7 separate regions of the Homo sapiens genome follow, and regions 1, 3, 4, 5, 6 and 7 are each linked to region 2. Evidence: fine-mapped expression QTL. A gene starts in region 2. Each other region holds a variant in brackets. All regions are shown on one strand. Distances are between the middles of the regions.

Region 1 (4,066 bases), 26 kb after region 2:
TGTGTAATTGTTGTTATCCATTAACTTAATGCTGGGCAACAGCATGAACTCACTAATCACAGTGAGGAGTTTTGTTTTCTGTGCAGGACAAAGTTCAACGCTCTGCTAATTTCATGATCTCAGTTGTGAAGGTCCAAGTGACTGGACCTAATATAAAATCGTGTCCACCATGGTATGACCTCTCTGGTGACATTATGAAGACTTGAAAAGGCAGGATGGGTCCAGATTTTTTTTTTAATAAAATACTTCTTTAGTTATTTTGATGAAAGGCAGTGTAAAAGGAAAATCCATTGTTTTCCTGTTGTTCTGAGTTGAGTCAAGCGACGGAGTCTACGGAAAATGACCACTTCTTTACTCTTCCAGAGTCCTAGCAGCCGTATGGGTCATTCCTCAGGAAAGTGCGGGTGCCTTTGAAAGTGGGCACTGGGGCCGTCTTTGAAAGGCACGTGTATCGAGCATTGTGTTTTGCTTCTCCAGGGGACCTGCTCTGTCACTGCATTTGTTGCCAGTTCGGGCATTTCCCCCGCTTTCTGTAGCTCCTTGTGTGCCACCTTTCCTAATCATAAGCCCTGAAGTTCCCCTGTGACGTATTTTTGTGCTGCTGAGTAGATGCTAGTTTGTTACAAAAGACCATACAATAAATGCTTTTGTGTGTAATAGTGCCCATCACACATGATAGGCACTCAGTGAAGTTTTACTGCTTGCTTTATAAAGAAATTTTTTCCACAAGGGATTTTATTTCTTAGTGAAGTACTGCCATGAGGATGATTTTTAGGGCCCTATAATTTAGATTTTCCTGATTCAAGACTGTAATTTATTCTTAAGCTATCTGGAGATCCACTTAATGAGAAATAAACCTTTTAAGAGGGCTGAAAGAACCAAGATTTTAAATGGCCAAATTAAGGCTTTTATATCACCTCTGGAAATAACTACTCGTTTAATTTTAAATCCATTAATAGCCTTCTGTAATTTTGACATAATGACTATTGATAAGTCCTTTATATGGTCTCATTTCAGAAATCTTAAGGAAATAATTGGTGTTAACGTAATAGGCATCGTGTTTTAAACATCATATGAAACATCATAATTGAAGGTTTCTCAATTCCTGGATTTAACTTAGAACACATACAAATAGATGCAGTTTTTTTTTTTCATGAGCCCTGTGTTAGTCAGGGTTCTCCAGAGAAAGAACTAAAAGAATGTGTGTGTGTGCGCACACACATACATCAAGAGACAGAGAGAGAGAGAGAGATTAAGGAATTGGCTCATGTGATTGTGAAGCCTGGCAAGTTCAAAATAAGCAGGGTAGGTCAGTAGGCTGGAGTGTCTGGCAGGCGTTGATGTTTTAGGCTTGAATCTTATGGCAATCTTAAGGCCAAATTTCTTTCTTTTCTGGAGACTTCAGTCTTTTAAGGCCTTCAACTGATTAGAGGAGGCCCATCCACATCATCTGCCTCACTCAAAATCTACTGATTTAACTGTCAATCACATCTAGAAAAGATCTTCACAGCAACATCCAGACTGGTGTTTGGCCAAATAACTGGGCATCACAGTCCTAGCCACGCTGACACATAAGATGAACCATCACAACTACCAGTGAGGAAACGGGAATGTTACGGTTCACAGGGGAACCTAAAGAAGAAGTCCTCTTTGCTTCACCTGCTTACATGATGTAGGGTTAATTGCAAAGCAAAAGTAGAAAATTAGAAGGTTTGGGAATAGCTACAGGAAAATTGGATGCTACACCAGCAATTAGGGATTAATAGTATGACTAAGGTCAGAGGTTTACGATATGTCAGGGATACACAAACTCACGTGTTGTATGTTTGCTGGCGACTGATAATAGTCTTCAAACCAAGAGGGAACATCAGCCATAGTCCAGAAAAACTGATGACAGAGTTTCCTAAATCCCAGAAACGAATAAAAATAGGACATCAACAATGTTCTACGAGTCAAGATTAAAGCTGAAATTATTTTAGGTTGTCCCCAGGGTCTAAGTAATGCCACTGTGCTAGGCCCAAGAGCTAAAGAGAAGTTAGTTCCCTTTCAGAGTTTCTTAACCTTCAGTGTCAGGAGGCCAAAGCAAAGCATAACATTGTTACGGGAACATTAATTTTCTGCACAGAAAATACAGGTTTGAGAGGGAAGTGCTCCACAGGGCAACTTGTTTGAAATGGGCAACAACGCTATTGAGGCGGTTGATCAAGTTGAAGAGAAAAGGGAAGGAAGAGCTGGAAATAGGAT[T/C]GGAAATCCTAGTGTGTTTGGCTTTTGCATATTCTCATGAAATTCCAATTGGTGAATTTATTAAGAAGTTGATTTCATTTCTGTAAAGTCACACTTAACATGCTGTTTAGTTAAAAAGAGCCTCATTATGGGTCAGATGTGTAGGTGTTGATTTATGCAAACTGAGAAGAACCAACAAAGAGACTTCTCTTAATCCTTTTCCTTGAGGAGGATGTTCCAGCAAACACCAGGTTGCATGTTATGACAGCCTAGCACAAAACTACCTTTTTCAAAGCAATGTCGTCTGTTTTCAGATGCTCTACTCTCACTGCTTGTATAATTCTAGGAATTTCAGAACCCATGAATTTTGGCTACCAAAATTCTTTAGCTATCCAAAGAAAGGAGAAAGAAATAGTCACAGCAAGATCTGCTTTTCTGTTGCAGTCATCCCTGCCTCAGAGTGACACATGAGTCATGACTGGAGGTAGATGAAGAAACTACGCTTCTGGTTGTCTGGCCTCTTTTCTGAGTAGTCCTAGCTATCTTCAGTTCTCAGTGGCTTTGTTAACACACAATCATTGCCCTCTTTCTCTCCACCCTTCTATTTATAGAAGTTTGACAGGGATGTGGAAAACAGCGACCGGCTTACGTTTTATTCTGCCTAGCTTTATTGCATTTTGCGGAAATTGCACCTTTTACAAACTGAGGGTTTGTGGCAACCCTGTGTGGAGCAAGTCTATTGGCGCCATTCATTGTTACAATAGCATGTGCGTACATCTTGTCTGTTACTTTTTGATAATTCTCAAAACATTTCAAGCATTTAAATTATTATATCTGTTATGGTAATCTATGATCAGAGATCTTTGATGTTACTATTGTAATTGTTTTGGGCTTCATGAACTACACCTATATAAGATGGTAAACTTGATCAATAAATGTTGTATATGTTTTGACTGCTTCACTGCTGGCCACTCCCAGTCTCTCTGCCTCTTCTCAGGCCTTCTTATTTCCTGAGACAGAACAATATTGAAAGTAGGCCAATTAATAACTCTACAATAACCTCTAAGTGTTCAAGTGAAAGGAAGAGTCGCCCATCTCTATTTTAAATCCAAAGCTAGGAATGATTAAGCTTAGTGAGGAAGGCATGTTGAAAGCCAAGATAGGCTCAAAGCTTGGCCTCTTGTGCCACATGGTTAGCTAAGTCATGAATGCAAAGGAAAAGTTCTTGAAGGAAATTAAAAGTGATACTCCAGGCCAGGCGTGGTGGCTCATGCCTGTAACCCTAGCTCTTTGGGAGGCCAAGGCGGGCAGATTGCCTGAGCTCAGGAGTTCGAGACCAGCCTGGGCAACATGGTGAAACCCCATCTCTACTGAAATACAAAAAATTAGCTGGGCGTGGCAACATGCACCTGTAGTCCCAGCTACTCGGGAGGCTGAGGCAGGAGAATCAGTTGAACCTGGGAGGCAGTGAGTCGAGATCATGTCACTGCACTCCAGCCTGGGCAACAGAGCGAGACTCCATCTCCAAAAAAAATAATAAAAAAAAAAAGTGATACTCCAGTGAACACACAAATATTAAGAAAGTGAAACAGCCTTATCGCTGATATTGAGAAAGTTTTAGTGGTCCAGATAGAGATCAAACTGGCCATAATATTTCCTTAAGCCAAAGGCTAATCCAAAGTCTAATCCAAAGCAAGTCTCTAACTCTCTTTAATTCTGTGAAGACTGAGAGAGGTGAAGAAAGGTTTGAAGCTAGTAGATGCGGGTTCTTGAGGTTTAAGGAAAGAAGCCATCTCTGTAACATAAGTGCAGGGTGAAGCAGCAAGTGCTGATGTAGAAGCTG
Region 2 (4,066 bases):
CTTCATGTCAGATCAGTGAATTTTCTCTTGAGCCATCCTGCCTTCCTCTAATAGATTTGTAATCTGAACCCAGACATATCTTTTATCCCAGGCGCTCAAAAGGTTTTCACTGAAACCCTGAAAAAAATATTTTTTAAAACTCACAAACAAACAATCAGCAAGCACCTGTATGTGCTAAGTTGATAGATAGTAAGAGTCTTACATGGGCTAAAGTTTTAATTCTCCACCCAATGCAGAGTGAGGTCCCACTGTCACCGGCTCACTGACGAGGAAGCTGAGATTCAGCAAGGTCCAGCACTCGCCCAGGGCTTGTACAGGGCCTCAAGGATGCGGGGGTCTTCAGGTCTAGTTGGTATCACTCCACAGAAATCCATTCATCTGAGGGCCAGGCCTGTTTCCCAAGGACATAGTTTCAAATATAGTGCTTTCTTCACTATAAAAAGTATTGCATGTAAATGTTAATAGTGGTTTCCAAGTAGGCAGAAATAACCTTTTGAAACACAATTTTTTTAAAAGAAAAATCAAAATCTGCTCCTCAGATTTGTGCTAATTCTAAAGAGATAATAAAAAAACCCTCAATTTAGACCGTGATATTTTTTTTTAAATAATACTAACATAGATTTCATTTTAGCATTTGTGAGTGCTTTGTGCAGATTTTTTATAGAGTAGAAATAAAATGGAACAGTCAATGATATTAGCCTCACATACTATGTTTCTAAAATTTTCCAAGGTTTGGTTTTTATATTTTTTCAGCTTTAAAAATACATGGTCATTGTTAAAACTTGGGGTAATTTCAATAACAATTCAAAGAATTAAATAAAATTTGCCCATATTTCCACCACCCACAGATAATTATCATTAATCTTGGAGTGTGCTTTAATTAATAGACTATTTTTAGAGCAGTTTTAGGTTTAGAAAACAGGAATGGAAAGTACACGGAGTTCTGATGTACTCCCTCACGCCCCTCCCTCCACACACAGCTGCTTGTACTGACATCTTACATTCGAGTGGCACATGTGTTATGATTGATGGGCCCATGTTGTTACATTAAGATGAACTAAGTCCATTACTTACAGGAGGCTCACGCCGCATGCTGTTCATTCTGTGAGTTTTGAGAAATGCATAATGACATGAAGCCACCATTATAATGTCATACAGAGTTTTTTCAATATTTTAAAAAACATACATAAAATTAATTTTCACTTTTCATTGGGTAATATAATTTTTGTTTTTTATTTTACAGATTGTGGGTATTGTTCTTTGATTATAAAAGACAATAGACATTTATAAATAATAGTGCTGGCCACTAAATGAATCATCTAAAAAACTACACTGGTAGAAAGCATGCATTTATTTTATGAATTCCATTAGCTGCCTATCAGGGAACATGGAGCACTGGGGCACAGATCCCAGCACAGAAGGGTTTGCTTCTCTTCTGTGGTTTTCATGTCAATTAATGATTAGGCCTTGAGCCTCACAAGAAAGGTGATAGGCCTTTGAGTCGGTTTACTGCAACAGTCTACTCAAGACTTGCCCCAGGCCCTGGGAAACATGTAGGTTTAAAAATCCCTACCCTGCGTTTTCCTTTCACAGGGAGTGAACTTCTGGCCCAGGCAGTGGGCAGTGGGGCACGGTTGCCCCGGAGATGAGACTCCTCTTCCCGCCCTGGGGGGTGGGGGCTGGCTGGTGGCTGAGGGAACTATTTTTGTTTGTTTCTTTTTTTAAAAAACGGAGTCTGGCTGTGTCCTCCAGGTTGGAGTGCAGTGGCGCGATCTCGGCACACTGCAACCTCCGCCTCTCGGGTTCAAGTGATTCTCCTGCCTTAGCCTCCTGAGTAGCTGGGATCACAGGCGCCTGTCACCACGCCCGGTTAATTTTTATTTTTATTAGAGACGGGGTTTCACCATGTTGGCCAAGCTGCTCTCAAATTCCTGACCTCAGGTGATCCGCCCACCTCGGCCTCCAAAAGTGCTAGGATTACAGGCAAGAGCCACTGCGCCTGGCCGGGGAACTGTTTTTGATGGGTGGGGTCCCCGGCTGTGGTTGGTAGTGTGGGGGCGTGGCCGAGGGTGTGGCCTGAGGGAGTGAGCTAACCGGGGGCGTGGCCTGATATGGGGCGGGGGGAAGAGCCGGGCTGGGGGCGTGGCCTGGTGGGGAGCGGGGCTGGGGCGTGGCTTGGCTGAGTGTGCTGCCGCGGCGCGGGAGGAGAGTGTGCGTTGCGCTTTCTCCCGCGATCGCCCTGCCGGTCGCTAGCTCCGAGGGCGCGCACTGGATCCCAGGCTCCTCCGAGAGTGCGGCGACCTCGGGGCTCCGCCGGCACCGGAGGTGGCTCTGAGGGCAGGGACGTGTTGGACACGCTGACTTTGTAGGCTCCGCCAAGAGGCGCCGCAGGAGGTAAGACGGCTTCGGGCGCGCGGCTCTGCCGGGCGGGCGCGGGCATGGGCTGTTAGGTAGAATATCGGGAGGATTTGAGTCCCAGTGGACTGCCTCGGGGCTTCGGGATGTCCAGCTCCCAGCTGCTTGGCCTCTGCTTCCCCCGCCGGTGGAGGCTACCGGGTGCTCACCTGTTAGGTCCGTGCGCCCGCTCCCTGCCCGGCGGTGGCTCTGCGCCCTCTGGGCCACCCGGCACCATCGCTTTTGGGAGGACATGCACGTGGTGTTCTCGCAAAAGGCCGTTTCCAGCCGGAAGCCTGCAGGGAGGTCGCCTTGTAACTTCACCCGCGCTCCCAGCTCGCGGGGCCTGGCCTACAGGGGCGGCCGTGGGGGTGGCAGAGTCTGGGGAGCCTGGCGCGGCGGAGCCCTGTAACGCTCTGCTCCATCGGGTGGCGTGGCTGGTGCCTCCGGGGACCCGGAGCGATGCGGTTGGAGAGCTTAGTTTAGAAAGCAAGTTTCTCTTGGTACCAGCGGAGTCTCGTCCCAGGGGAAAGATTTTGGGACCCGGTGCCCATCGTCTGTGGACTGCAGGGAATGCATTGGCGGAGTTGGTTTGGTCCCATTCTGTGCAGGAGGTGGGGGAATTGGTACTCCAGCCCCAGGCAGGTAGAAGCCCGCGCTGCTGCCAGCGTCAGGGGGAGCTCGGGTGACTTGGGCTGGGCCACCCATCTGACTGCAAGGTTACAGAGCTTGAGCAAATTTCCCCTCCCTCCAAGTGCAGGAAAACCAAACCAAAGCAAGCAAACAAAACCCTGTGGGTCATTTGCTTCCCAGCATTGCATAGGGATGTGGATAAATAGAATAATACTGTGAATTTATTCAGCTCTTGTTCCCATGGCTTCCCATAGCCTTATATTATGCACCTCCCCCTGCCAGCATTTTCTCTGTCCCCACCTTCGGTTTTTGCTGCCTCGTGTTTTCTTCTCTGTGAACCTTTCCTGGTCACCCAGCGATTTGCTCTCCTTTATTCCCCTTGCTAACAGGCGGAGAAATCTCACTCCTTTTCTTTTTCCACCTTTCCCAACAAATTCTCCTTTTTTCCTAATGTCCCCCTCCCCCGTCTTGCAAACTTCCTCACTGCATTATTCTCGGGGTGCCTGTCATGCACCCTCCCTGTTCTCTGCCCTCCTCCCGCACTTTAGAGTTTCATGTGGCTTTGTCTTATTATCCCATATCCTAATTCTCATCTACCTCCCTTGGCCCCCACGTTTGCCATCTGCCTCCACCCAGTTCTCCCATCTCCTTCCTTATTTGTGCTCCCGTGCATATGCAGGTTTCTTCCTTGTTTCCCCATGTTTCTCCCACAGGTGCTTTCTTCCCTTTGCCCTACTTCTCCCTGGCAGGCGCTCTGCCCAGCCACAGCCTGCCCCGCCTGGAGGGCACACCTTGCCTCAGTGCCTTCTGCTGCGGTTTTCCATGCTCCATCAGCATCCCTGGGTTCCTTGTGTTCTTCCAGTCCGCCCTCTGTCACCTTGCAGACGGCTTTCTCTCCGAATGTCTGCAAGTGTCAGAGGCGAGGAGTGGCAGCTGCATCTCTGCAGGAGGACTCTGGATTTCAGGACCCTCCCTTCTGCCACTGCTTCTGACTGATTGTTTTCTTATTGAAGTCGTATCCTCTACATAGTTCTAGAAT
Region 3 (4,066 bases), 130 kb after region 2:
ACATAATTTTGAAGTGCATCTCCACAGAAAACAGGAGTCTCTTTTGTTTTATTGTTTGTTTGCTAGATGAATCTTCCATAGAAAGGAGATGTTTCTTCTATCTTATATGCTTATCATATAAACAAAATCTGTATAGTTAATCTTGTCTAAATGTCCCAAATTCATTTTTTCAAAATCCTTTTATGTAGTCTGGAATTAGGGGGTTACATTTGGAGTAATTACTTTTTAAAAATTTCTAAGGGTTATGCCATAAGAACTATGGAGTCCTTCCTAATAATATCCAGGAAGTGTCTATTACATTTCAGGCACTGTTTCCAGGGTTTTCTTATATTAGCTTGTGTATTGCTATGAGGTAGATATGATTATCTCTCACTTTCTAGATGAGGAAACTAAGGCCCAGAGAGTAAGTAACCCAAGACCACATACCAGTAAGAGGCATCTGTGAAGGCAGACCCGGGCATGCGGCTCCAGGACGCATGGTTGTGATACTGTAACTGCCTCAGAACCTTCCTGTGATAACATGCATTTATCATTTTTTAACTTATGATTGACTATTACTACTTAACCGCTAAAGGATTTCAGAGGAAGATTTTAGTCCCAGCCCAAATAGCTAGGGAACAGTAAGAGTAATAATAATAACAATGACAGCCTCACCACACCTTCACTTCCTGGGTGCTGGGCTCAGTAGCTGTCTAGAGTCCTCTGGGGCAGATAGATTTTAAGTGGCTGGGCATAATGTTTTTGTGTTAAGTTAGTCAGCTGGAGGCTGGGCCCCATGTGTGACGTGGGCATATCTGGGACATTGTCACAGGCCTCCTTGTGTGGCCTGTGCAGAAGGTTCCTGCAGGAGCCAGCTTAGGACAGGCTGGAGGCCAGGTGGTGGCATGAGGAAGGTAAGTCTCACAGTGAGGACAGGGGAGTACTGCTGCCACCAGGGAAGGGGTCTTGGCGGGCCCAGCCAGGGTGACGGCAGAGAATTGGGAAGAGAGGTATGTTGAAATGGGCATTTTTGAGGAAAACCTGACAAGACTAGTTGTAAACCACAAAGAATAAGCAACGATTAAAACTGCATACATGGTTTTCAGCGAGTTGAAAAAATTTGTGGGAGGGGGACGTTAGAGGCCCTGCTCCCCACCTTCCAGGATGAGCGTGAGGCAGGCTAGAAAGAGACCAGGGTGCTGAGTTCCAGGGCAGCCTCATCCCCAACCCCCTCAGGAGCCTGCTGAAGCACCCCTTCTCGCCGGCCAGATAACGCTTGCGGAAACCATGGCAGGGCAGCTTGGGTGCCAGCGGATTTCATGCCCTGTCCTTCTTGCAGTAGTCCATCTTCCTCCTTTCTAGGAGTGTCCCTTAGAGAGGGCTGGGATGATGCCTGTCTTTGTCATGTCCCAGAGGCACCCCAGAAGCTGACGAAGCTGTACTTTTCCTTCCCAGCAAGAGGGCTTTGCCATCTATTCCGAGTACTGCAACAACCACCCGGGCGCCTGCCTGGAGCTCGCCAACCTCATGAAGCAGGGCAAGTACAGACATTTCTTTGAAGCCTGCCGCCTGCTGCAGCAGATGATTGACATCGCCATCGACGGGTTCCTGCTCACACCAGTGCAGAAGATCTGCAAATACCCGCTGCAGCTGGCCGAGCTGCTCAAGTATACCACACAGGAACACGGGTGAGGGGCATGGGTAAGGGGCACAGGTGAGAGCACTGCTGCCATTACCCGTAGGCAGCTCTTAACTCCAGGCAGTGATAGGTGGGCTTCAGTGTCAGCCTTAACACTTTGGGAGCTCCATGGGAGAAGTTTTCAGGTTGTTTAGAATGTGTGCAATTAACTATTGAAATAGAGTGGTTGAAGAGCCTCCAGGATATCCAGTCCTAGAGCTATGAAGACACAAGGGCCATTCGTGAGCTGTGCCACGAGTGCATGGCGGCTTTTGTTGTATTGTTATGTTGCTTACCTGTATTTTATAAACATGTCTTTGAGTACTCAGTAGTTAGTAAAGACGGTTTCTGAGGGAAACAGACCAGTGTGAATGGAAAGCCATAACTCTGGTTCTCTCCTGTACCCTTGAGGTTGACGTACAGCAGCTCGGCTCAGAGCAGGATTCTTTATGGCAGAAACATTACTTACTAGTGGCTTACCTAAAGTTACTTGTTGTTAAGCAGTCTCTATTTAGCAACCCCTTCTCTATTTAGAAGGGGTGAGGGCACACACAAGCTTGAACTGTAAAAGGGTGTGGATTGTCAGGGGTGCAAACCCATATGGGGCAGCTGAGAAGACCAGGGCATTGGGCACCTGCTGGGCCCTGAGCCGTTCCCTACCCACCGGGGTGC[C/T]GACTCTCTGGTCTTCTCCCTGTTCCCTCCTGCTGGGAGCACAGGGCTTCCTTCCATGCTTACCTGAATGCTGCATCTCCCTTCGAGCTTCCTTGGTGCCTGACTAAGCTCTTCTTGTTACTCACACTTCTGTTGTTTGGATCTCGGCTTCTCCTGAACAACAAGCAACAAAATACACTCTCTCTCTGTCTTTATTTTTTTATTTTTTTATTTTTTTTTTTGAGACGGAGTCTCGTTCTGTCGCCCAGGCCGGACTGCGGACTGCAGTGGCGCAATCTCGGCTCACTGCAAGCTCCGCTTCCCGGGTTCACGCCATTCTCCTGCCTCAGCCTCCCGAGTAGCTGGGACTACAGGCGCCCGCCACCGCGCCCGGCTAATTTTTTGTATTTTTAGTAGAGACGGGGTTTCACCTTGTTAGCCAGGATGGTCTCGATCTCCTGACCTCATGATCCACCCGCCTCGGCCTCCCAAAGTGCTGGGATTACAGGCGTGAGCCACCGCGCCCGGCCTCTCTCTGTCTTTATTATCTGCCTTGGTTGTTTCTGGATTCTTCTCACGCCCTTGTTCCCTAGCTATATGATCTCTTCTGGGGGAGCCAAAAGTTACCCTTTGTTTCCTTAATAGCCAACCATCATTTCGTGCATGCACAGAAGCCTTTGTGTGGTTATACATTAGGCATGTCACCCATTCAGCATTGGAATGTGCATGCCCATTTTCCATGCCATGGGAAAATGTCATCACAGCACAGCCCAGCTGTTGGGTACCTCAAGGTAGCAGTGCTTGGCTAATTCTGAGTTCTCACCTGGCCAGCAGGGACAGGATAGTCATAGGGCAACTGCTATGTGCCAGGCTCCAAGCCAGGCTACCCAGGGGCGCAGGGGTCTAGGCTAAAGCTGACTCTTTTAGATGAGAATCGAAACAGGGTCCATGCCCCTGACACAAAGTCTTTAACTGCACCTGCAGCTCTGGAGAGGGTCATCTCAAAGGGTCCTAATGAGAAGAGGAAGAGGGAAGGGATTGTACCAGGAGGAAATTTCTATGGCAAACCACAACAGTTCTGGGTTTCAGCAGCTAAATATCTTCCTGCAGGGAGTGGAGAGTGAATCATTATTTTGTCCTCTCTGCCTCTGAACTCCTGTGGAGAGACAGACTTAAAAAAGGAAACTTCTGGCCGGGCGCCATGGCTCACGTCTGTAATCCCACCATTTTGGGAGGCCGAAACGGGTGGATCACATGAGGTCAGGAGTTTGAGACCAGCCTGGCCAAATGGTGAAATCCCATCTCTACTAAAATGCAAAAATTAGCTGGGCATGGTGGCGGGCACCTGTAATCCTAGCTAATTGGGAGGCTGAGGCACGAAAATCGCTTGAACCCAGGAGGCGGAGGTTGCAATGAGCCGAGATCGCACCATTGCACTCCAGCCTGGGTGACAGAGTGAGACTTTGTCTCAAAAAAAAAAAAAAAAAAAAAAAAAAAGGCGAGGGTGTGGGGAGAGCCTTCTTACAATTAGATTGGAAAGTAAAGAATAAGAGCAGATCACTGAACAATAGACACTAGATATGGGTGTTAGCTAAAGAGTTAGGACTAAAGGAATTAGAAAAAGGAGTTCATTGAAATAGATAAAAGAAGAGAGAGCTATATATTTTTTTCTTTTTCTGATGGAGAAATCAGAAAAGTTCAGTGGAAAAAAAAAAACAGGGAAGTCAAGAGAGCCACAAAATTGAAGAAAAAAAATTA
Region 4 (4,066 bases), 120 kb after region 2:
GCGGTGGCTTACGCCTGTAATCCTAGCACTTTGGGAGGCCGAGGCGGGCGGATCACAAGGTCAGGAGATCGAGACCATCCTGGCTAACATGGTGAAACCACGTCTCTACTAAAAATACAAAAAATTAGCTGGGTGTGGTGGCGGGCGCCTGTAGTCCCAGCTACTCGGGAGGCTGAGGCAGGAGAATGGCGTGAACCTAGGAGGCGGAGCTTGCAGTGACCCGAGATCGCGCCATTGCACTCCAGCCTGGGCAACAGAGCAAGACTCCGTCTCAAAAAAAAAAAAAAAAAAAGAAGAAGTTCACCTTGGAAGTAATATATAGGATGGCTTGGGGAGGGAAACAGAGTCATGAAGACTGGCTGAGGGATTTTTCTAGCTAGAATCTCAGATGAGCACAGGGGTGGGAGTCAGAGAGACCTGGGTTCCTATCCTGGTTCGGACCCAGCCCCTGTATAGCCCTGATAAATGACTCAACTTCTTGGAACCTCAGTTTCCACATCAGCAATTTGCAGTTCAATTGGAAATCACATACTGAGTGCCTTCTGTATGCCAGGTACTATGCTAGGGGCTGGGAAGACAAAAATCAAACGTCTGTCCTTTCCTTTAAGTCTGTCCTGTCCTTTAAGATGGTAAGCGACCTAGACAGTAAGCGTGGGGAATCATAGAAAACCACCAGGCCTGGACGAAGCATCAAAGCATAGCACAAAGATTCTTCCTGTCTAGACATCAGACACTGAGAAATCCCACTCCATAAAACACACTTGAATTATGGGACAGGAACACAGGAGTCATTAACTTTAAGGGACTTTAAAATCGTGAAAGTAGTTAGGGTGGTGAAGGGAAAAGGATACAACCAGAAAATGGAATCAGGTCCTTGACAGGCCCCACTGGGAGCAGGGATTGGTAGTTGGAAGGAAGGGTTAGTGAGGGAACGGAGGGCAGGACATACGGCTGCTCTCCAGAATGGGAGCAAAACACACAGATTTGGATACTAACACTGTTTTTAATATCATTTTGTCTTATTACAAGTAACAGCTACTGCTGGAGGAGACAGTTCTGCCCAGTGGGTAAGAGTTAGATGGCCTGAGCCTGCTGCACACAGCTGTGTGTTATTGGGACTTGAGTTTCCTCATCTGCAAGTGGGGACAACTGACAGTACCTCCCATGTAGCATTGTCATGAGGATTATATGAGCCGGTTCATCTCCACAGCTTAAATCAGTGCCTAGCACATTATAGGCACCTGATAAAATAACATCTTGCAATTCTATTTTTAATTTTTTTTTAATTTATAGAGATGGGTCTTATTATGTTGCCCAGCTTGGTCCCAAACTCCTGGGCTCAAGGGATCCTCCTGCCTCAGTCTTCCAAAGTGCTGGGATTACAAGCATGAGCTACCACGCCCAGCCACATCTTGCAATTCTATACTGTTTTTCAATTTACAGGGTGCTTTCATGTATCATCATTCCACTTGAGGCTCAAAGCACACCAATAACAAGTACTTGTTCAGAATGTATAAACAACCCTGAGAGATGGGTTTTATCATCCACATTCAACAGGTGAAAAAACAAAGAAAGAAACTTGACCAAGGACTCATACTCAAAAAAGAAAAATATAGAAAAGAAAAAAAATGTGCATCGCTATCATTTGAAGGCAAGTTCATCTGACCCCAAAGCCTTGCATGAAGTCCACATGCTGTTTTTCTTTCCTTCCTTCCTTCCTTCCTTCCTTCCTTCCTTCCTTCCTTCCTTCCTTCCCTCTTTCCTTCCTTCCTTCCTTCCCTCCTTCCTTCCTTCCCTCCTTCCCTCCCTCCCTCCCTCCCTCCCTTCCTTCCTTCCTTCCCTGCCTCCCATGTATGCCAGGCAGGAACACAGTTAAGAATAAAGCAGACAAGAATTACTGCCTTTCTGGAGCTTACATTCTGGATAGTGAACAGAATACATTATAGACGGTGACAAATGCTATGGAGAAAACTAAACCAGGGGAGACAGTGGAGTGAGAGTGAGGGTTGTGGTTTTGAGTGGTATGGTGAAGGTGAGAGAGGGAGCCAGTGTGTGTGTACCTGGGGAGGGCTGTCAGGCACACGGAGCAGCGGCCCTGGGCAAGGAGTGCCTGCGGTCTTTGCAGCCAAGAGCCCATTGGTTGGAGAGGGGTGGGAGGCACAGTGTATCTGGGGAGAGGTCTCAAGAACTTTGGCTGTCTCCCCTGTGGATGATTCTGAGCAGAGGAGTGACACAATCCAGTCTAGGAATGGTTTGGCAGCATCGCTCTGGCAGCTATGGCCTGCCGGGGGCAGGGGTGGCAGCAGGGAGACCAGGAGGGGCTGCTGGAGGGAGCC[C/G]GAAGCTGGATGGGAACCCAGGCTTAAGTGGTGGGAGGGGACCCAGGCTTGAGTGGTGGCAGAGGGGTAAGAGGTAGCCAGATCCTGGACACTTTCAGGAACTTGAATCAGATCTGCCAGTGAGTGGGTCGTGGGATGTGAGAGGTGGAAGAATAACCTCTGAATAGATAAAACATACAGGCTAATGCCTGCTTTACAGATGGGAAAACTGAAGCTCAAAGAGCTGAAGTGACTTGCACCAAGGTCATTTAGTTAGGAAGTTAGTGAAGCAAGGACATTCACCCAGGAATTTTCACTCCAGGCTCCATGACTTTCCCTCGTCCATGTTTCAAGTCTCTTGCCCCTGGCCTCTGCCCCCCATCTCCTGGCCAGGACTGAGTCAGCCCACCCATGAGCGCTTCAAGCCATCTTGCTTCCGCAGTGTCGCTAACTACTAATCCATGATGTTGAAACAGTTGCTGTTGAAACCTCTCTTGTGATTAACCTCAGCCAGAGTTGTCTTTTTTCTTTACTTTTTTCTTTTGAGGCAAAGTCTTGCTCTGTTGCCCAGGCTGGAGTCTGGTGGTACAATCAGAGCTCATTGCAGACTGGAAATCCTAGGCTCAAGCCATCCTCCCACCTCAGCCTCCCAAGTAGCTGGGACTACAGGTGCGTACCACGACCCCGGGTAGAGCTGTTTTGCTAAGTGTTTATGAAGAACTCAGAGAGCAGTCAGTATTTCCAGTCCGTGTCTCTGTCCAGAGGTTTTTCTCCTGGTACCTCCTGTAAAGGTCTAACTTTTCAATAGACTCCTGTTAATTGTGAATTTATACATGATTACAACCAGCTTTTTTTCTTTCTTTACTGATTTTCACAGCAATAGCTAGATCATGGTAAAGAATTCTCCCTTGGAAAACACTGTTCAGTTCTTCGAGGAGAAAGCGTCATTTTTCAGAGCTGTGCTGTGGGTGGGAAGCCCCAATGCCTTTATTTTACTGAGATGCACTTTTTTTTTTTTTTTGGCTCAACCACGGTTTAAATTGATAAGGAAAAATGCTATTGGTACCAGACAGTGCCAGATCAGTGGTTGCTAAAATTGGAAGATTCCTGCTGCTTTAGGCATTAGACACCCAGACTTTGTGTATATGCTCCTCACCCAGGAGCATCAGGATATCTCGGCCAGTAAGCAGCACAGTTCTTGGGCCTCGTGGTCTGGGCAGCCGCTCCAGGGTTAGAGAAGGCCTTTGTCTTCAGTGTTGTTTCCCTTGGAGTCTAAAACACACTCATGCATGAAAAAAATGATGTGCTTCCTCAAGACATCCCCCAACCCACCCCCAAACTCACACACCAGCAAAGCATACTAGACTAGGTGACCTCCTGCTCTCCGACTGTACGCACCCTGGCCTAGCATAGGAAGCAGAAGTTACATTTAAAACGAAACAGTCACCATGCGTTGTTCAGGCTCCCGTGTTTCTCAGACAGCACATGTCTGGCTTTCTCAAGGCCTCCAGCCACACCCCCAGCCAGACAGACATGGGTACACACATGCATAGCTGGCTCCCTGCTGCCCACCCACCCGTGCTCCCAGGGTGCACTCCCTTCTCCTGAGGCGCCAGGCCCTGCCATGCCCCTGGCAACCGTCCCCTCTCCTTTAATGAGCAGGTAAGAAAGCTAGGGCCCAGAAGGCAAGACCAAGGCTGTGGAGCGCTTTCTTCTGCCTCTTGGCTTTGTGCTTAGGCCCGGGAATTTAC
Region 5 (4,066 bases), 64 kb after region 2:
TTCTAATATACTTCAGCAGCATCCTCACTTCTCTCTGCTGTATGGCCAGTTGGAAAAAGACCCCCACCAATGTGTTTCCTTCTCAGAGGCTGCCCTGGCATGTCCTTGCTGAGTCCTTCCCGCCTGTGTCTAGGTGGCCCTGTGAGGCTCTCAGTTAGTGTTTGGGCGTCTCAGCCCTCCTGGACAGGAGGCAGCTGCCAGCATGTGGGGCTCCATCTCTGCTCCTCATGCTTATTCCTGCGTGTGCCAGCACTTGGTTTGAGTATTCGGTATGTTGGATTCAACACAGGCTGCCATTTTAATGTCATGCTTTTGAAATCGTTGTGAGGTTTTCTTTTGGTATTTCCTAATTATTTTTTTTTCCATTTCAAATAAGAAGAAAAGATAGTGTTGAATGATACCTAGATATTTTCATTCCAGCGGTTTTTTTCCTAGTCTCACCTACACAGGTTCCAGTGAGCTCAGGAGTTTACCTTCATGTCCGTGGCACAGCCCATAATTACCCTTCTCTGTCCAGGGATGTATATTTGCATCTTTCCTTCAACTTATGAAGTGAATGGAGGGGAAATGTACAGTTTTAATTGAGTTTGAAGTAGCTTTCATCTGACCAGCCCTGTGCTGGAGCGTGCCTCTTCTTCTGTGAGCAGAGGGGCTACTGCGTGGGAAATGGCTAAACCGCCTGCTTTGTCTTTCACTGCAGCCCGTGGCCACCCAGGAGCCCGATGTGCAAGGCAGGTGTGAGTGCCAGGACGGCATTCCTGGAGATGAAGGCCTGGAGCTGCGGTCTGCGGACTCGGCAGTGCCCGTGGCCATGACCCAGGCTGCCGTGCGGCCCTGGGCACCCTGCCTGGAGAACATGACCACTGCCCCAAACGGCCTCGGGCCAGGCCCCGCAGCCCCCTGTGCAGGCTCGGACCTGAAAGACGCCAAGATGGTGACCTCCCTTGCGTGTGGAAATGGAGTCTGTGGCTGCAGCCCTGGTGGCGACACGGACACCCAGGAAGCCAAACTCAGCCCAGCCAAGCTTGTGCGCCTCTTTTCCACCAGTCGGAAGAGGACGGGTGCCCACCCCGAGCGGCCCCACTCCATGGTCCTGGTGGGGAACTCCTCCACATGGAACACCCTCGCCTCCTTCCGGAAAATGGGATCCTTTAAGAAACTGAAGTCCTCAGTCCTGAAAGGAATTCAGAGCCGAGAGGGGTCAAATGCCTGTTCAAAGGGAGAGGCTTCGGAGCATGGCCTGGGAAAGTCCATCCCAAATGGCGCTGTCCCAGGAGCCCAGGCAAGCAGGGGCTCCCCCTTAGCACCGGGACCAGCATGTGGTGCCCTCAGGCCAGCAGAGTGGGGCACATTGGATGGCTCCGACCTCGAGGACACGGACGATGCCTTCCAGCGGAGCACACACCGCTCCCGCAGCCTCCGCAGAGCCTACGGCCTGGGCCGCATCTGCCTGCTGGATGCGCCCCAGAACCATGCGACACCCACGATAGCCACTGGCCAGGTGCCCGCCGTGTGTGAGATTCTCGTGAGGGACCCTGAAAACAACAGCATGGGCTACAGGAGGAGCAAGAGCACGGACAATCTTGCCTTTCTGAAGAAGAGCTCCTTTAAGCGGAAGTCCACCTCCAATCTTGCAGACCTCAGGACGGCCCATGACGCACGGGTACCACAGAGGACCCTGAGCAGTTCCTCCACTGACTCCCAAAAGCTTGGGTCAGGAAGGACCAAACGCTGGAGGAGCCCGATAAGGGCCAAGGACTTTGACAGAGTCTTCAAACTTGTGAGCAATGTGACTGAGGCTGCCTGGAGGAGGGAGAGTCCTAGGAGTGGGGCCCCATCCCCTGGAGAGGCCAGCCTGAGACTTCAGGCACACAGCCGGCTGCATGACGACTACTCCCGCCGCGTCTCCAGGAGCACTGAGCAGGACAGCAGGCGGGGCGGGGCGGTCATGCATGGGACCACTGCAACCTGCACCGTGGCCCCCGGTTTCGGCTCAGCCACCTCTAAGGGGCCCCACCTAGACGCTGACACTGCCGTATTTCCTCTTGAAACCAAAAGTTCCTGGGCGGTGGAAAG[C/T]GACAGTTCCTGCACTTGCAGCTCTTTGCCAAGCCCGATTGTCCAGGATGTGTTGAGCAAAGACTCCTGTGACCCAAACGCTGGCAGCCAGTTGACATTTGACCCTGAGCAGCCTCCCACCCCTCTAAGGCCCACCACACCCAAGCCCCAGAGCCCTCAGAGCCCCCAGAGCCCCGGGGCAGGAAGTGCCAGCTGTCACAGCAATCACAGTGCCCTGTCCGCGAATTCAGAGGAAAGTGAAGGAAGGGCAGAAGAGCCTGCTCAGAGAGAGCCAGGGCCTGTGTCCTTGCAGGATCCCCTGGAAGCCACACATGGTGATGAGGGCAGCAAGGACCTTCTGGTGAACATTGGTGTGGCAGCCGGCCCAGAAGAAAAGGAGAAGGAGGAGGTAAGGGCAGCGGCGAGGTCCCTCATGTGGGCGACCCTCCTGCGGGAAGGGAGCTTGCACAGGTGTTGCCCTTGGTCCCTAACCTGTCAAGGTCAGTGGCCCTCTGCTGACCTTGTTGCCCTTACAGTATTAGTGGGAATGGGAGTTGTCAAGTTGCTGTTTACCAAGTTCAGAAGTAATCTCTATCTCCTTTGAAATAAATTGACAATGTACGAGATTCATTGAGATGACATTTGCCACACCTTTCATTCAAAAGATGTTTATTGAACATGTACCAGGTACTAGATTCTGGGGGAAAAAAATAAGTTGTAAACAAACTGTCTTCTGCTCCATGCAGCTCTGACTCATATCTTTCTTCTTTGTATTTTAAGCTGTTTCTGTAACCTTTCCCACAAAGTACATATAAGTGAAATTCTTTCTGTTAAGAGACTATTACCTGTCCTAATGTCACAGCACCTGTGGGTGTCACTTGACCAGCTGGAAACCTCTGTGGGCTGGCAGTGCCTCTGCTTGAGTTTTGCTCGTGCCCACTAGCCTCGTTCCACCCATTCTGCCCAGCAGGCTGCATTCGGCTTGCACTGCCAGCCCAGATCCCATGCCTGCCAAGGGCAAACCAGGAATGGAGCAGCGAGGGGTGTGTGAGTGAGTGAGCATGGAGTCCAGCCTCTGCACACAGCCAGGCATGTCAGCTGTTGCAGCAGGGCAGGCAGCTCCAGGTGCCGGCACAGGTGCTGGCTCCATGCAAGGCTGTGGCTGGACCAGATGCACTGTAGCTGGCTTCCGCTGCAGGCACCAGCGTGTGGACGAGGGGAACGTGGTGACGAGTGAAAGCTCAGAGATACCAGGAATCACAGAGCCCCAAAGAGGGTGTTACGGCCTGTCACAGCCTGGTTCTCATCTGGGCTCCCAGAAGGGCCACAGCTCTCTTCTTCTCATCACCTGCATTACAGCAAGCAGGGGGGCTTGTTTCTGGGAGTATGTTTCACCCCATTTGTGTTATATCTCCTTCAGTCCCACTGCCCCACTCCAGCATGCAGCTCTTGGGCTGGTCTAGCCCCACCACTGCTTCCTGTTGCATGTTGCAGCTGCCTGGTGCTGGTGGAAATTGGGAGGGTTATAGTGTTACAACTTTAGTTGAGGGAATCCCAAGGTTTGGGCCCCCAGAAGGGTTGCCACTCTTCACGCCTGCAGTCCAGGGGCATGTCACTGTCTGTAGCTCGGTGAGCTGGCCAGGAATTTGTTGCAGCCCCTTTAACTCCCACCTGCAGCTGGGCGAGCCATCCGGGAAAGTGTTACAGCTCCTTTCGCTCCCACCATTGGGCAGGTTCCACATCCAGGAAAAATGAAGTTACGTGGACAAACGGAGGGTGAGCAAGGCTGAGAAGAGCTTTATTGGGTGACTGAACAACTCTCAGCCCATAGGAGACCTGGAATGTGTTGCTCCTCTCTGCAGGCAGGTAGTCCCAATGAGTGGCGGAGTCTGGGGGTTTTTATAGGCTCAGAATGGAGGAAGTGCATGCTGATTGGTCCATGGGCAGGCCTGGAAAAAGCACCATTTGATTGGTTGAAAGGCATCAAGGAAGTTCTCACTCCAGGTCGCTG
Region 6 (4,066 bases), 55 kb after region 2:
TTTTTGTTTTGAGATGGAGTCTGGCTCTGAAACCCAGGCTGGAGTGCAGTGGCATAATCTTGGCTCACTGTAACCTCCACCTCCTGGGTTCAAGCAATTCTTTTGCCTCAGCCTCACGAGTAGCTGGGACTACAGGTGTGGGCCACCATGCCCGGCTAATTTTTATATTTTTAGTAGAGACAGGGTTTCGCCATATTGGCCAGGCTGCTCTCAAACTCCCGACCTCATGATCCATCTGCCTCGGCCTCCCAAAGTGCTGGGATTAGAGATGTGAGCCACCATGCCCGGCCAGGGTCTTTCTTATCCTAGAAAGAGGACAACACCCTTCTCCCTGTCCTTTTTCTCATTCTGCTACCATTCAAGCTTCTAAGTCAAAGATCCAGTTCATCTTTTCATAGAAGTATGACTTCATTTATTTTAGTATATTACTAATGAACAACTTTAATATAGCGATCCTATTAATATTTTTAACATAATTTGTTTACATTATAAATTAAGTGGGAAGGGGAAGATGATACGAGAATCTTATAGGAAAAAATGTGTCTTCAAGTCTGAACAAGTGACTTAAAAATTGATATTTAGAATACTACTTGTTCAACAGTTTACAGAACATTTTACCTTCTGGTATTTATTATCTGAGTCAGGGTTGAAGGAATCTGAAGGCATGTATGATCCATACTCATGGAGAAAAGATACAGCTAATTTTGAAATGAAATAATGGCATTTTATATATGTTTGGTTTCAGAGGCATCCTTTGGGAAAAGCGATCACCTTCTCCAGATCCGCATTCAGGTGATCTTTGCCAATCTCTGACTGAGCCTGGTGGCACATCACTTCTATCTGGCCTTGACCTTTGAGGCAGCAGGATGACTGCAGGGAGTAGGCAGTGCTTCCATCTGTGAATCACAAAGCAGATCAACCCCAAAGCAGCCACCTGCACATGTGGTACATCTTCTGCACCTCCATAGACACTTTTACCTAAGGCCAGATGCATGTACAATAAACTTAAATCCATTGACTTTTCAACAGATTGCTTCACGTCTTTGGATCTGGAAATTTTGACCCAGAATACCATTCCCTATTAGCAATGACCTATAACTATCAACTTTACATGTTACCAAGAAAGGTGTCACGCCATGAGAATAATTAATATTTTGATGAGAATTTTCTCTTTACAATGCATGTGCTTCTCTAAAAGTAAAAGAAACTGCTCTAAAAGAAATTTTAGGATCCCATGGAGAAAGCTGGGTTCAGGGATGTTGTGTGACTAGCACAGGTCACATAACAAAGCAATTCAAAGCAAAGAACCCTGACCCCAAATTCTTAGCCTCAGCTGCTGCCCTTCCTCCCCTTCACCTGTCCCTCAGTCTTGCTGAGAGGGATGCTCCCTGGTGTTGTCCAGTCATCACTGGGTTCCCTGCATCTGTGTTGTCAGCAGCACATCTGTTTCCCTCCTTAGTTGCATGGGGACTCTCACTTCCCATTTGCTTCTGCCTTGTAAAGGGTAACATAACCTTGTCTCATCTTGCATCTCCGCTTTCCTTTTTGAGATTCAACATATTTAAGTATTAGTGATTCTTTAGTTTTCCTAGCAACTAAACTCAGCTGGTTTTGAACTTCTCGCAAAAGTCAGAATATAGTACTTGCTTTCATTTCAGTCCCCACTGAGCATCTGACATATTTAAAACATTATTAAGCTGTGTCAAAGGAGCCATGTCCCTGGGATATTATACCAGAGTATTCCTGAATTCTGTGTGTTGGTTATGTTCGAGCACAGCGTCTCCCTGAGGACGCGCTGGCAATGAGAACCTCCACCTCTAACAAAGTCTCACAGATCGCCTCTGAGAGATGGGGTGTGTGCTCCAGGGACCCCTGTTCAGGAGGAGTAGCTGGTCACCTCTGGCTTGGTTCATTGGTGGCATCATGTCACATGACTGTCGTGCATGTCCTAAATGAGGAGATGTGTGCCAAGAGGCAGGGAGGGCTTGCAAGAAAACAATATGCAAATCTCAGTTCAATTAGAAGACAGTTTAAATTAGAAGCAGAAGGCATTTCAGCAACTGCTTTAATGTGTAAAACTAATTTGAGAGGATGAGACACTTGATTGCACAGCACAGGGAAAGGGCCTCTTCTGGGCCTCTGTCCTCAACAGTGGCAAAATGGTCTGTGGGGACATCCCCTACCTTAAGACCTGATAGGCTGCTGGGTGGAAGCTGAGTTGAAAATTAATCTCATTTCCTCAGAATGCAAAGCTATAAATTGGGGCTCTGCCTGGAAACACATTTTATGCAAAGACAAAAAAATTGAACACTAAAATAAATGCAGCAAAAATAAAATGCAACACACATATATGCTCTTACACACAGTTATTAAGTATGTCTAATTAAGCTGTGGATGTAAAAGCTACATCATTCCCTTTAGGGGTATTCTGTGCTGACTGCACTGTTGGGTG[A/T]CTTAGCCTGTGAACTCAGTGAACACAGCTCCAGATTTGGGCCAGTCTGCCTCTGCCAAGCAGAGACATTGTTTTTGCTCCAGTGACCATCACAGTGCCTTCAGGATTAGGGCCATCCATCTGGAAAATTTTCATTGCCCTGAATGGTAAATGTGGGGGAGGTGCAGTCTTGTGGTGACATCAGTTTTGGCATGGGTTGCAGGCATGAGGTAGTCCTAACCGGGAACTTCATTGTTACTGCTGCAATCTTGTTTACCACCAGAAAGGTGGTGGACAGGCCATGGCTGTAGGAAGTCAAGACGCAGGGCAGTCTTCAGGGCTGAGGGCTGTGACTGGCAACAGCTCCCCTGGAGCCTTCCAAGGTTGCTGTGAGATTGGAGGAAGAGGAGCTCAGAGGCTGTCACTGTGCAGAGGTTGGGGACGCAGGCAGGGAGGGGCATTATGGAGGATGCCAGCATCTTTCGCACAAGCTCAGACCTACCTGCCCTTTCATCTCTCACTACACCAGCCTGACCTGCAACTTTAGACACAGAAGGAAGATTTTCCTTTGTGGTCTAAGACCTGCCTTTGCAAATCCTTGTTTTCTGCACCCCATCACCCCAGAGGATTGACAAAGCAAATATGAATCCCTATTGGGGAAACACCATTCTCACCCACAGGAATGTGTTTTAGCCCAGTAACCCCCATAAGGCAAGCCAAGACAATCACACGCTTGTATGAAATTGACACCTTTCCAAAAGATACGCTTATTCTAGTTGCATTTGTCCATATACTTTCAATTCACAAACATTGAACTTCAGTGATTGAATACTTAAGTGACGCCAGAGCTACAGATGCTCTTTTGAAGCATCTTACCTACTCCTTACACAGAGAGACCCTGAAGGTACCAGATCAAAGGGTAAGGGGGCTTCTTTCTTTTACTAAGGTATGTATATTGGGGCTAGGAAGAGGAAGGACGGTGTCTGGCATTAGGCCTGGGGAATAACTTCATCTCTGAAATTAGGACCTTGGATGCTTTCTCTTTATGAATGTTGTAAATTATGGCTGGGCATGGTGGCTCATGCCTGTAATCCCAATACTTTGGGAGGCCAAGGTGGGAGGACGATTTGAGGTCAGGAGTTTGAGACCAACCTGGCCAACATAGTGAAACCCTGTCTCTACTAAAAATACAAAAATTAGTGGGGCATAGTGGCATGTGCCTGCAATCTCAGATACTTGGGAGGCTGAGGTGGGAGGATCACTTGAGTGTGGGAGGCGAGGTTGCAGTGTGCTGAAATTGTGCCACTGTGTACTCCAGCCTGGATGACAGAGCAAGACTCTGTCTCAAAACAAAACAAACAAACAAAAACAAAAACAAAAAAAAGGAAATGATAAATTTCAGTGGTTTTAACTGGCCATGGTATGTACCTGTTATCCCAGCTACTTGGAGGATGAGGTGAGAGGATCACTTGAGTCTAAGAATTTGAGGCCACCCCGGGCAACATAGCAAGATTGAGTCTCTTAAAACTTTTTTCCAGTAATTTCAGAAAAACTATTCTGAAACTAATTGGTAGCACATTCATGGTTTTCAGCACTCTCTCTCTTTTTATTACAATTCTTCTTCCTAATAGCATC
Region 7 (4,066 bases), 150 kb after region 2:
ATTTTCAGTGAGGATTCAGTTTAAGAGTCATTCTTAGGACTTCCATTTCCTAATATTTATTCATGGGTAATGAAGAAATGGTTTGCATTTTGTGGCCAGTCCTAATTTATTTTCCAGCTGAGCCCTAACTTCCGGCTCCCACCTACCTCCACGGACTTCCTAACAGAGACTTATGAATACCAGGATGTGTTTTTGTTAAGTCAGGTTCAATTCGTTGCCCCTGTCAGTTTTATAGAGTGTGAGGGTCACTCCATTAAAGATCTCTCCTGGGTGGATCCTACTTGGATGTTCAGGTGATTTTGAAAACTGCTAACATTTTTAAAAGGCTAGAACATCCTTTGACTTCTTGAAAATCTGCATGTCTGGCTTGGGTTTTATTACCACATGCCTGAGTTCTTCAAGAATGGAAGGCTCAAGTATTCTCATCTTCCATTTGCCAAACTTCCTTCCTGATTTGAGTCACGTGTTCCACTTGGAAAGAAAGGGAACAGAGAGCCTCCTCCATGGACAGTGTATGAATTTCATTGGGAATCTTGCTCTCTCCCGCCTCTATGCCTTTCTCTCTTTTTAACCTTACTTTACATAATATTATAGATGGGCCAAGAAAAGAAAAGATGACATAACATTTTGATGAATTTCACCTATTCCATTCTTCACGTTTCAGAATTGGTCGACTTTGTTAGAAGATAATTGAAGTAGCCTTGGGTCAAAAGCAACCTTTTCAATTGTGATCATACCTAAAACATATAAAAACCCTGCCGTAGATTAAAAGCAATTATAAAATCATAAAATTGAATGTTTGCAGAATCCTGGAGCAGTAGATTTCTTTGTCTTTGGCCTGCGGACTAGAAAGAGGGCAGCAGTAGTATGCTGGAGCTTCCCTGGGATACCAGCCACATGGTTTCTTTTCATTAGATCTGATTTTTGTTTCCCACTGTAGATCTGATTTTGTAGTTGAAAACATTTCACCACCATCAAACACTATTTCTGAATATTGTGCCTTTTTATACCTAGCCTAGATGAAAACCGATGCCATTCTTATTCAGAAAATCCCCCCATCCTACATGACTGTTATCTAGACATAAAGCAAAGTGCATTTAATTCAAAATTTGGTTCACAATATAAGTATTTTGTAAAAGCCAGCTGAACCAGCATTTTATCAGGTGGAAATCTCTGCAAGCCAAATTGCTGATACTCCTTCATGCAGATCAACTTGGTGTCCCAGTCAGAATAGAACAGCATAATTACCTGGAGTTAGGGGGAGTATTTCTGCACTATTACTTGTCAGGGAGAGAAGAAACTTAGAATTGTCCCTCAAAGGAGTGTCAAGAAGTATGAATAAATGTCCTTTCACCAGCTCACAGGCCAGAAATGGAGGACCCAAGTCAACTAGGTGAAACTACTAGCAGACCCAGCTTTCCCATAATAACCTAATCTGCAAATTGTTCTATTAAAGTCTCATTGTTTTCAGGATGCAATGAAAGTGGATTTCAAAAGGCTTTGGAAAAATAAGTGGAACATGACTGATCTTGAAAAAAAAAGCAAAAGCTTAAATATTTGATACAAGTTTACTTAGCTACAACATACTTTACATTGTTGCCTTTAGTTATCTCACAGGCACTGACATTTTATATTTAGAAAATACTTTTAATCTTTCTAATCTTTTTTTGTAAATATTAGTGTCCATTCTGTATGACTCGCTAACCTACTTTGCAAGGCTTTGGGCAACATTTTAGCTCATTAACTTCAAGATGATGTGTCATCTGTATAGGTCAAAGAATGGGACTTCTGAACTGAGGAATTTGCTGTTGACAGCCAAAGTATAGTGTACAAGATTGATGTAACTTGATATGTATTTTTGTTGAAGTTTTTTGTAAAAAAAAATTATTTACAATGTTATTTGAATGATTTTTTTAAATGCTGTGAATCTATATTTGTTGTTTT[G/A]TATATTAAAATTCATTTGCCAAACTCGTTCTGATGATGCATTTGAGTAGCAGCCTTTAAAAGGAGGAAGTGGAGAGCTGGGTGCGGGGGCTTCTGGGATTTGTAGCTCCTCTGCTGCCCTGATGTCCCTAGACTTCTCAGTGGCAACAACTCATCCATTCAGGAGCTCCATGTAACCACTGGGTAGGCGTGGGAGAAGGGGGGCTCCGAGGGCAACCTCGGAGGGCACCCTGGCTTGAGAAACGTCAGTGGTTGGAGTAAGAGGGATGCGGAAGGGAGCAGTGGGGCGGGGCCGCTTTTGCTAGGGATCATGGAGAGGAGACAGAACAACAGACTGTGCCCTCTGACTGCCCCTGAAGGCTAGGCCCTGCCACAGGAGCTGTGCTAGTGGCCCTGCTCACTCGCCCTTTGCGGGTGGGTAGATTAGAATTTCCTTCTCCAACAGCTCAGAAGAGCTAAGTCAACAGCCCATTGTTTGCTGTGGCTGTAATCAGAAAAGGATTCCTATGAAGGCTGCCAAGTGGCTACTGCCCACTTTTTGTTTACTCTTAATATCCACCTGCTTCCCAAAGTGATCTGCTCCTCCCAACCTTGGGCTGCACTGGGGAAGGGCGGTCGCTAGGGTGGGGAGGGGGCGAGCCCCAGAACCCATAGGGCAGAGCATAGTGGCTCCATGTATAGGACACAGTGAAAGAGATGGGGGTGGCATTTTCTTCCAGGAGAGTTGTGGGGAGATGACCGTTAGGTCATAAGCGCGCCCCTACTCTGCACTGGCGAGACCAGCAAAGCTGGAGTGAACCCAGCTGAACCTGGGCCGCAGCAGCCCCGGAGGCTGGAGGCGCTGCAGTCGGGAAACACCAGGAGGATGGAGCCCTTTTCCCTGTAAGCAGGAGGCCAGGATCCTGATTCCTGAGCCGGCTTCCCACGGACCCCAGGCCCCGGCAGGGTCCTGGCGGGAGGAAGAACCCACGGAGTGAGTGGGGTGTCAGCAAAGCGGGGCCGCAGGGCAGGTTCTGGAAGCCTCTCCGCGTGGCTGGGCTGGAGTGTGCAGACGTGGGAGAGCCCGGAATGGGGAGCGCGTGGCCGGTGGAGGCCCGAGGCTGTGCTTCCGTCGCTGGCTCTGAGGCAGAGGTCCAGGCCGGCAGGCTGCCCAGGTGGTCCTGTCTCAGAGCTCTCCGGGGCGCAGAGGCGCGGGAAGCGGGGAAGGGCCGGGCAGCGAGACGGGTGTCCCCAGCAGGAGGTCGGGGACCCGTCGCGCGTTCCGTCGGGGCCGCCTGCGGTGCAGGGGTCAGAGACCAGCCACGCGAGCAAGAGGGAGCCCGGCCAGAACTGCTGAGAGCCCCCAGCGGAGCTGGGACTCAGGGGCTCCTTGCGTTTAGCCACCAAGAGTGGGGGCAGGCTGCGGGGTGCCGGGGAGAAGCCAGATCTCACTCATTTTACACCGACTAATTAGATCCCGCCGCCCACCTGGGACCACGGCATTGTCATGTCCGCTGCACTGACGGGGAAATTGAGGCACGGGGGCGAGTAAGGCGGGAGAGGGAGTCGGCGCCGCCGAGCTGGGGCGAGCCCCGCACCCACCCGTACACTCGGCCTCTGCCCCTGCTCTGTGCGTGGGCTCCTGCTCTGTGCGTGGCCTCGCCGCCGAGCTGGGGTGAGCCCCGCACCCACCCGTACACCCGGCCTCTGCTCCTGCTCTTTGCGTGGCCTCCTGCTCTGTGCGTGGCCTCTGCTCCTGCTGCGTGCACTGCGGCATCTCGGGAAACCGGGCTGGGCTCCTCTGTCCTCTGGAAGCTACTGTAAGTTTTAGATAAATGTTACTACTAGACACGAGGAAAGTGAGTCCATGATTACTGGCATTGAACAAATGGTTGCACCGCGTTCTCCGTGGTAGGTGGAGTGTGTGATTGTGAGAGGGGAATGGACACTGAATCCTTACCTACACAAATGCCTAAACTCGTAAGGCATTACGACACACCCATCTGAAAATCTAATTAAGCGGTAGGAATTCTAATGGTCCGGGATCCAAATGAGACCCAGCCACTTAACAGTTAGCAGCCTTCAGTTTTGTCCTGTTGCCCGTAATTACCCCAAGGTCAGGGAGAAGCACTGAAGCAAAGGC

Evidence for each region.
Region 1: its variant is fine-mapped to the expression of SPATA13 in whole blood (TOPMed, PIP above 0.99).
Region 3: its variant is fine-mapped to the expression of SPATA13 in whole blood (TOPMed, PIP above 0.99).
Region 4: its variant is fine-mapped to the expression of SPATA13 in whole blood (INTERVAL, PIP above 0.99).
Region 5: its variant is fine-mapped to the expression of SPATA13 in whole blood (TOPMed, PIP above 0.99).
Region 6: its variant is fine-mapped to the expression of SPATA13 in cerebellar hemisphere (GTEx, PIP above 0.99).
Region 7: its variant is fine-mapped to the expression of SPATA13 in whole blood (TOPMed, PIP above 0.99).

The regions. Positions count from the first base shown.
Region 1 is chr13:24,184,584-24,188,649 of GRCh38, forward strand. The region is part of intron 1 of SPATA13 (spermatogenesis associated 13); the gene reads left to right. Among named protein-coding and RNA genes, the nearest start is that of MIR2276, 24 kb to the left of the region's middle. The variant T/C (reference allele first, on the strand shown) is at 2,245.
Region 2 is chr13:24,158,539-24,162,604 of GRCh38, forward strand. It overlaps SPATA13 (spermatogenesis associated 13), which reads left to right and starts at 2,182. Exons shown (of 13, transcript NM_001166271.3): 1 at 2,182-2,394. MIR2276 (microRNA 2276) reads left to right here and starts at 3,878; the gene lies at 3,878-3,966. RefSeq lists a silencer at 2,073-2,132.
Region 3 is chr13:24,289,218-24,293,283 of GRCh38, forward strand. It overlaps SPATA13 (spermatogenesis associated 13), which reads left to right. Exons shown (of 13, transcript NM_001166271.3): 9 at 1,435-1,667. Among named protein-coding and RNA genes, the nearest start is that of C1QTNF9, 18 kb to the right of the region's middle. The variant C/T (reference allele first, on the strand shown) is at 2,330.
Region 4 is chr13:24,277,171-24,281,236 of GRCh38, forward strand. All of the region lies in intron 4 of SPATA13 (spermatogenesis associated 13), which reads left to right. Among named protein-coding and RNA genes, the nearest start is that of SPATA13-AS1, 25 kb to the left of the region's middle. RefSeq lists a silencer at 3,810-3,889. The variant C/G (reference allele first, on the strand shown) is at 2,337.
Region 5 is chr13:24,222,119-24,226,184 of GRCh38, forward strand. It overlaps SPATA13 (spermatogenesis associated 13), which reads left to right. Exons shown (of 13, transcript NM_001166271.3): 2 at 701-2,464. The coding sequence starts at 812. Among named protein-coding and RNA genes, the nearest start is that of SPATA13-AS1, 30 kb to the right of the region's middle. RefSeq lists enhancers at 1,141-1,997, 1,702-1,811, 2,012-2,081, 2,856-3,712. The variant C/T (reference allele first, on the strand shown) is at 2,077.
Region 6 is chr13:24,213,275-24,217,340 of GRCh38, forward strand. The region is part of intron 1 of SPATA13 (spermatogenesis associated 13); the gene reads left to right. Among named protein-coding and RNA genes, the nearest start is that of SPATA13-AS1, 39 kb to the right of the region's middle. The variant A/T (reference allele first, on the strand shown) is at 2,453.
Region 7 is chr13:24,305,102-24,309,167 of GRCh38, forward strand. It overlaps SPATA13 (spermatogenesis associated 13), which reads left to right. Exons shown (of 13, transcript NM_001166271.3): 13 at 1-1,968. It also overlaps a transcript of C1QTNF9 not described here. Among named protein-coding and RNA genes, the nearest start is that of C1QTNF9, 2.4 kb to the right of the region's middle. The variant G/A (reference allele first, on the strand shown) is at 1,945.